Linked DNA regions of Homo sapiens: region 1 is linked to region 2. Evidence: fine-mapped expression QTL. A gene starts in region 2. The other region holds a variant in brackets. All regions are shown on one strand. Distances are between the middles of the regions.

Region 1 (4,290 bases), 510 kb after region 2:
AGATAAATAATGGAATAAGTAAAGCCAGGTTTGCATAATTTTTAAGCTATATTGTTAAGTACTTTTGACACAATAGACCTAGGGAAAGAGCCAAAGTCTTCTGGAATATGCAGCATTTCTCCAATACTTACTAAGCAAAGCAAAGAATTTTTCTTCAGATGTATTTATTATTTATTAGAAAGGAGTATTTCAAGTTCTCATTGTGTGTTTCCAGTTTAAGATTTTCACGTCTCATCATTTTTGTGTGTTTTATTTTTCTCTTGTCTTTTGAATCTGCTTTGTGGAAATGTTCTCAAAATTTTCTTCTGCATTACTGATATGGTTTTCTACAAAATAAACTCTGAGTTCAATTAAAATGTTAATTTTGTTACTGCACTTTAAGGTTATAAGCATCTAATGTTATTGTCTTTTAATATTGGCACATTTACCCTATGTGGTTTTCTGCTATGATTTTATGAAAGCCATATTATTTTTCACCTACCAGATGCTAAACACTTTTCTAAGGTATTTTTCATTTTTTGTATTTACAAAGGTTCAAATAATTCAAAGAAAATGCATTTTTTACTACCATATCTATATGCAGCAGATAAGAGGATGGAACTTAGTTTTAACATTTGCTTGCTTCATTAACATAATTAATAACAATTTTATTTCTTGCTTTAGATGTAATATTAAATTATTTATGTTCTTATGTAAATTATTCTTAGAAATATATATTTTATCCAAATTGATGTAAGAATTTCTATCTGTTCATTAAAAAATGGACTTTGTGAGTCTTGCTCTAAAAGTAGTTCTCACTATAGTGTATTGTTTAAGCTACAAAGGCAAAGCACAACTGAGAATATAAAATTTCTGATTAATACAGAACCATACTAAGAACCAAGGTGATAATGAAGTTGAATTTAAGAATTATGTAGATATACTATTACTATCAACCGAAAGTAGTAGGATAGTTACACAATTTAGTTCCAAAATGTGTGCAAGTTCAACTAGAGGTATTACAAAAAGAATGTCAATACTTCTCATGTAATCTTGACTACTTTATATAAGAGAAACAATAATGCAGGATTTCACTTTCACATGCCTGCAGAGGGTGATTAAGAATTAAACTGTTAAGAAAAAAAAAGCGAAGGGGGCAGGGGGAATTGGTGGTAAAAATGAAACTGCCAATTGCATTCAAACTAATTAAAAACAAAATACACAAAAATGACGAAACAAATCAGTCTGAAGGATAGATCACACAAGTTTTTCTTTTTTTTATGGTCCAATGTATATACTAAGTGAATAACTTTGGCTTTTGTTATCCTAACATAGCTATTGATTTTATTTTGGCTTATTTCCTTGACATTTTATTTTTATTTATTTATTAATTTATTTTGTTTTATTTTACTGTAAGTTCTGGAATACATGTACAGAATGTGCACATTTGTTACATAGGTATATGTGTGCCATGGTGGTTTGCTGCACCTAACTACCCATTATCTAGGTTTTAAGCCCCACATGCATTAGCTATTTGTCCTGATGCTCTCCCTCCCCTCCCTCCACCACAGGCCCCGATGTGTGATGTTCCCCTCCTTGTGTCCATGTGTTCTCATGGTTGAAATTCCACCTGTGAGTGAGAACATGCAGTGTTTGGTTTTCTGCTCCTGTGTTAATTTGCTGAGAATGATGGTTTCCAGCTTCACCCATGTTTCTGCAAAGGACATGATCTTTTTATGGCTGCATAATATTCCATGGTGTATATGTACCACATGTTCTTTATCCAGTCTATCACTGGATAAACCAATCATTTTGGTTGGTTCCAAGTCTTTGCTATTGCAAACAGTTCTGCAATAAATATACATGTGCATGTGTCTTTGTGGTAGAATGATTTACATTTCTTTGAGTATATACCTAGTAATGGGATTGCTAGGTGAATTGGTATTTCTGGTTCTAAATCTTTGAGGAATTGCCACACTGTCTTCCACAATGGTTGAATTAATTTATATTCCCACCAACAGTGTAAAAACATTCCCATTTCTCAACAGCCTCCTCAGCATCTATTTTTTCTTGACTTTTTAATGATTGCCATTCTGACTAGAATGAGATGGTATCTCATTGTGGTTTTGATTTGCATTTCTATAATGACTAATGATGTTGAGATTTTTTTCATATGTTTCTTGGCCACATAAATGTCTTCTTTTGAGAAGTGTCTGTTCATATTCTTAGCCTACTTTTTGATGGGGTTGTTTGATTCTTTCTTATAAAAAATTTGTTTAAGTACCTTGTAGATTCTGGATATTAGACCTTCATCAGATGGGTAGATTGCAAACATTTTCTCCCATTCTGTAGTTTG[C/A]GTGTTCACTCTGATGATGGTTTTTTATTTTTTTTCTGTGCAGAAGCTCTTTAATTAGATTCCATTTGTCTAGTTTGCTATTGTTGAAATAGCTTTTGGCATTTTTGTCATGAAATATGTGCCCATATTCTGAATGTTCTGTATGCCCATATTCTGTATGTTCTGAATGGTACTGCATAGATTTTCTTCTAGGATTTTTATAGTTTGAGGTTTTACATTTATGTCTTTAATCCACCTTGAGTTAATTTTTGTATAAGGTGTAAGGAAGGGGTCCAGTTTCTGTTTTCTGCATATGGCTTGCCAGTTTTCCCAGTACCATTTATTAAATAGGAAATCCTTTCCCCATTGCATGTTTTTGTCAGCTTTGTCAAAGATCAGATGTTTATAGATGTATGGTATTATTTCTGAGGTCTCTGTTCTGGTCCATTGGCCTATGTATCTGTTTTGGTACCAGTACCATGCTGTTTGGTTACTGTAGCCTTGTAGTATAGTTTGAAGTCAAGTAGTATGATGCCTCCAGCTTTGTTCTTTTGCTTAGGGTTGTCTTTTTTGGTTCTGTATGAAATTTAAAGCAGGTTTTTCTAATTCTGTGCAGAATATCAATGGTAGTTTGATAGGAATTGCATTGAATCTATAAATTACTTTGGGCAGCATGACCATTTTCATGTTACTGATTCTTCCTTTCCATGAGAATGAAATGTTTTTCCATTTGTTTGTGTCGTATCTTGTTTCCTTGAGAAGTGGCTTGTAGTTCTCCTTGAAGAGGTCCTTCACATCCCTTGTAAGCTGTATTCCTACATATTTTTTTCTCTCTGTAGCAATTGTGAATGGGAATTCATTCATGATTTGGCTCTTTGCTTGTCTTTTGTTGGTGTATAGGAATGCTTATGATTTTTGCACATTGGTTTTGTATCCTGAGAGGTTGCTGAAATTGCTTACAGCTTAAGGAGTTTTGGGGCTGACACGATGGGGTTTTCTAAATATAGAATCTTGTCATCTACAAACAGAGACAGTTAGACTTTCTCTCTTCCTATTTGAATATGCTTTATTTCTTTCTCTTTCCTGATTGCCCTGGCCAGAACTTCCAATACTAGGTTGAATAGGACTGGTAAGAAGGAGCATCCTTGTCTTGTGTTAGTTTTCAGAGGGAATGCTTCCAGCTTTTGCCCATTCAGTATGATGTTGGTTGTGTGTTTGTCATAAATAGCTCTTATTATTTTGAGATATGTTCCATCAATTCCTAGTATATTGAGAGTTTCTAACATGAAGGAATGTTGAATTTTATCAAAAGCCTTTTCTGCATCTATTGAGATAATGATGTGCTTTTTGTCATTGGTTCTGTTTATGAGATTATTGGGAAACCCGCCCCTGATAATTCAACATTATTTCACGTAAGTTCTTTTCTATTTCCCTAAGTGTCAGCCTGTCTGAGAAATAATGGAAAAGAGTACAAAAGAGAGAAATTTTAAAGCTGGGTATCTGGGGGAGACATCATATGTCAGCAGGTTCCATGATGCCCCCCAAGCCACAAAATCAGCAAGTTTTTATTAGTGATTTTCAAAAGGGGAGAGAGTGTACAAATAGGGTGTGGGTCATAGAGATCACATGCTTCACAAAGTAGTAAAATATTACAAGGCAAATAGAGGCAGGGCGAGATCACAGGACCAGGGCGAAATTAAAATTGCTAATGAAGTTTCGTGCACGCATTGTCATTGATAACATCTTATCAGGAGACAGGGTTTGAGAGCGGACAACTGGTCTGACCAAAATTTATTAGGCAGGAATTTCCTCATCCTAATAGTCCTGGGAGCGCTATGGGAGACCAGGGCTTATTTCATCGCTTATCTACAACCATAAAAGACAGACATTCCCAGAGTGGCCATTTCAGAGACCTACCCCTAGGAACGCATTCTCTTTCTCAGGGCTGTTTCTCGCTGAGAAAAAGAATTCAGCGA
Region 2 (4,290 bases):
GCTGTCTGGGACTAGGTGAATACAGATCTGTTTTTAATTTTCAGGCTTCCTTGTGAAAATTTAATGTTTAAAACATCTAAGCCAGGTTAAAAGTTCTAATAGTTCTGACTGCTGGTAGAACGGACATAATTCTTCATTGCGAGGTGTCCTTGACAGAACGCCTCTTGTTATTATAGAGATACAGGCCTTATGAAGATTCTTTCCTTCATGGTTACCTCTCTTCCTCTGTTTTCATTTGTTTGTTTGACCAAGTCCTACGCTGTGCATACTCCAGAATCACACACACACTGTGTCACTTATCAATCCTGCCGTCCCTGATTTCAGTTGATGATTTTTGTCTATTACTAATGTAGATTATCTGATTCTACCATCACTCTATTAGCTGCTAATGGCCTAATTCAATTGTTATCTATAATCTGTTATTTTTCTTAAGAAATTAGGTCTATGATTGAATTTTTCATAATTTTTCTCTGCAGCAAACTTCGTTTGGAACATCTGGGAGTGATAACTCAAAAGTAGCAATATTCTTGATATGGACAGGGTAGTATAGTGAAAGTGGCGGTGATTATCCTCATTTAAAAAGTGAGTCTATTTTACATTTTAATTGTGGTGATGAACATATTTCAAGGAGATACTAGCTTATACTTAGGAGAATGCTCTCAGTGCCAACAGACAATGAGGGATCAATTTATCATTAACTGATTAGACGAGACTTATTTTGGCAATTGGAAAGAGAAGGCAAATATATCCAGAATGTTCAGAGAATTTCGTTTTTTATTCCACTTTCCATAGTCACTTGTATCCAGAGCTTATATTTTATTTTTGAGTTGAATAAAATAACATTCATAATGTTATGGCATGATGTGTTTTGGTACATTCAGCAAGTGCCACAATCTCACTGGGACAAATCCCCATACCATTCATAATCGCCAATAGTTACAATAATCACTGTTTAGCTTTGTATTATGTACTATAACTTTTACCAGGCAATAATAGTCACTTGAAATAACCATATTCAACTTAAAGGAAATTTAAGAGTTAAAAATATCTATGTGATTATCAAAGAAAATGTAAAAAGCTGAACATAGAACTGTTTCTAGTAATATGGTAGATAAGCTACCTAGAAGCTTGGCTTATACACCACAAAACATTTAGGAGACTTGTATAAGAAAACTCCCAGTATTTTTTTTTTTTTTTAAAGGAAGCTAGAAACCAGAGCTTTCAGCTGAGGCTGTGAATGCTGTAAGCTACACGGATGTGCTTTGGTCAAGGAATGGGCCGAGGCAGACATCCCGGCCTGCATGACTCAGCGGGACTGGTGCACAGGCACACACCTCTACTTGTTATATAACCTGTTTCTGTAAGCTCATACTTGGCTCTATGCCCCTATTGTTTGTAAAAGGTATAACTGCCCTGCTGATGCTGTGCAGGGGCTCTTGGGCGTGGCTTGGCTCGGCTTGGCATAACATGGCTCAACATGGCGCTGGTGCCCAGAGAACGAGAGAGCGAGCCAAAGCTGTCCGTCTTGAAGGCGGGCAGGGGGAAGCCAGGAACCAGGAAAGAGTTAAGCTTCTGACCCGGAAGAAAAGGGAGAGCTGGCCGCGCAGCTGTGCGTGGAAATGGCCGGCTCAAGCAGCCGAGACAGAGCAGAGTGTGAGAGAGCTAATGGAAGTAAGCTGCTGAAGAAACCGTATTCACCTGCCTATGGCCCGTGAGTGTTCTTGAAGCTATCTGGCGTTCATCCACCCACTCCCCTCGGACCTCAGCATGGGCTGGAACCTCACCCTAGACCTAACAGATGCTCTCATGAGCACTCTTCAAACTCAGAAATTTCCCTTACGTCATCACGAGCCGAAGATTTCTAATTAAAGTATGTCAAGATGAAGTGGACTTAATTGACATCTGCCTTTTAAAGTATAATTCGTTCTTTTCTTGAAACTCGGATCTCTAAGTAGTAGAATATTTAGTAAATATAACTCCCATCCTTATTCTAGGCGATTTGGGAAATAAAATATTAGATGTGAAGCTTAATACAACGTTTGAAAATATTATAAACACTTTGTTTTAGTCTATTATTTTGGTTGTTAATGTCAGAAACTCAGATCAAGTTGGATAAATTTAGGAGACTCAAATATTTTCATAAGGGTGCGTTTTCTCTCCATTTCTAGTATTTCCTCTGTAGTTTAGGTTTATTTTCTCCCTCTGTAGATGGACTCCCTCTATAAAGTCAAGGAATATTACGGCCACGAGTGGTGGCTCACGCCTGTAATCCCGGCACTTTGGGAGGCCGAGGCAGGCGGATCACGAGGTCAGGAGATCAAGACCATCCTGGCCAACATGGTGAAATCCTGTCTCTACTAAAAATACATAAATTAGCTGGGTGTGGTTGTGAGTGCCTGTAATCCCAGCTACTCGGGAGGCTGAGGCAGGAGAATAGCTTGAACTAGGGAGGTGGAGGCTGCAGTGAGCTGAGATGGCACCACTGCACTCCAGCCTGGTGACAGAGCAAGACTCCATCTAAAAAAAAAAAAAAAAAAGTCAAGGAATATTACTAGCGGCTCAGATTTGGTTGCATAGTTTATCTGCCACAGTGGGAAAGGGGTGTGAAGCCTTCTTACCCAAAAATTCTGATAAGAGTGACTAGAGTTAATACAACGTGATTCTGATGATTGGCCCTTGGTTCTGAGCCAGGTTGTCAACCCAAAACAACAACAAAAAGCTAAGAGAATATGCTAATCCCATTGCCAAGTCTAGCACCATGCTTGATGCCAGAGAGTTGCGTCAGTTCCAGCCAAATTACACAGATAATTAGGAGAGAAGAGATAAATTGTCAAAGAAAACAGGTGTGCAGTTACTAGCAGGAGAGCAAATGAGTGAGTTTACTCTTCCTCTGGTACTCCCAGAACCAAAAATGTCCAAAACCTAAACTTCATATGTCATCTCATTTTATTTGCTATTTGGTGAGTAGCTTTACCAAGTTGTCATTCTTTGAGAGCTCTAGGATCAACGGATTCTTCTCCCTGCCTTTGAGCTTTTAACAGATTCTTTAACGTCCGCTGAACTGTTAATACACTGCAAATGGCATTGGATAAAGGGAATGGGTTGTAGCTTGCTTCTGCCAGTAGTTACTATCAGTTATAATTGTAGACAATAAATCCAATTTCTTTAAACTCCAAATTTCTTGTTTGAAAAAATTCTATGCAAGATTCAATCAATTTTTTAGACTCTAGATCCTCTTGGATCCAAACAAGTTCCCTCGGTTCTTTCAAAGTCACTGAATTTGATTGCCATATATTTATAGAGTTCATGGCTTGTAAATATAACTTTTGGAAAATACTCAAAATTTTAGATTATTATAATTGCAGATCCTTTTTCACCCCACTAACATCTCCTTTCTCCCGATTGTATGCATTGTCATCGAACCTTCGTGGTCACTTAATAAGTTTAAACAATTTTGGATATTTCCAAAAGCCCGTTTTGTTTTACCTTCAATTTGAAAATCAAACAAAATACTAACTTAGACTCAAACATGTAATCCCTTTCAAAGGTGTAGATTTGTTTTTCTGTTTTTTAGCTCCTAATGAAACTGATAAAATATTTATTTTATCTAATATAACTAGAGAGAATATTGGTCATTGGTATTTGCATCCCTTCCTACTGTTCATCTTCAGTATGTTACAAATTTTAACAAATATCTTAAACAATGGCCTATGAGTTTATGTATTTTCATTAGTTATAAAATATAACTGACATAAAATAAGCTGCATGTACTTAAGGCATATAAAGTGATAAGATTTGATACGTGTATACACCCATAAAACCATCACCATAATCAAGAGTGAGTACATCCATAATCCCCAAAGATTTCCCGTGCCCCTTTCTTATATCTTTTCTTCCCCCACCCATGTCCAGGGCTACCACTGATCTGCTTCTTTCTCTATAGATTAGTTGTGTTTTCTCAACATTTGCATAAATCAAGCCACGAAGTATGGCTTCTTTCAGTTAGCATAATTATTTTGCAATTCATACATGCTCTTGTGTTTCAATAGTTCAATATTTCTCACTATTAAGCAGTCTTCCATGATAGGTATATACTAAAATTTGTTAATCCATTTAATGATGGGCAGTTGTGTTGTTTCCTGTTTCTGATTATTACATATAAATCTGCTATGGCCATGTGTATACCAATTTGTATATGGATGCATGCTTTTTTTCCTCTTGGGTAAATACCTAGGAGTAGAATGTCTCCATCATATGATAGGTAGATGTTTAAATTTAAGAAGCTTACGT

Direction of the effects. Positions count from the first base shown, and alleles are read on the strand shown. Sizes are in standard deviations (SD) of each study's normalised expression.
With allele A in place of C in region 1, the expression in prefrontal cortex of the gene that starts at base 1,610 in region 2 is higher (moderate effect, 0.55 SD a copy in CommonMind).

What was found. PIP is the estimated chance that this variant, and not a neighbour inherited with it, causes the effect. A credible set is the group of variants that fine-mapping cannot tell apart.
Region 1: its variant is the best candidate, but not a certain one, in a credible set for the expression of LINC01098 in prefrontal cortex (CommonMind, PIP 0.88).

Annotation. Positions count from the first base shown.
Region 1 is chr4:178,232,153-178,236,442 of GRCh38, forward strand. No RefSeq gene overlaps it. Among named protein-coding and RNA genes, the nearest start is that of LINC01099, 330 kb to the left of the region's middle. The variant C/A (reference allele first, on the strand shown) is at 2,336.
Region 2 is chr4:177,727,148-177,731,437 of GRCh38, forward strand. LINC01098 (long intergenic non-protein coding RNA 1098) reads left to right here and starts at 1,610. Exons shown (of 6, transcript NR_028342.1): 1 at 1,610-1,870. RefSeq lists an enhancer at 737-1,936.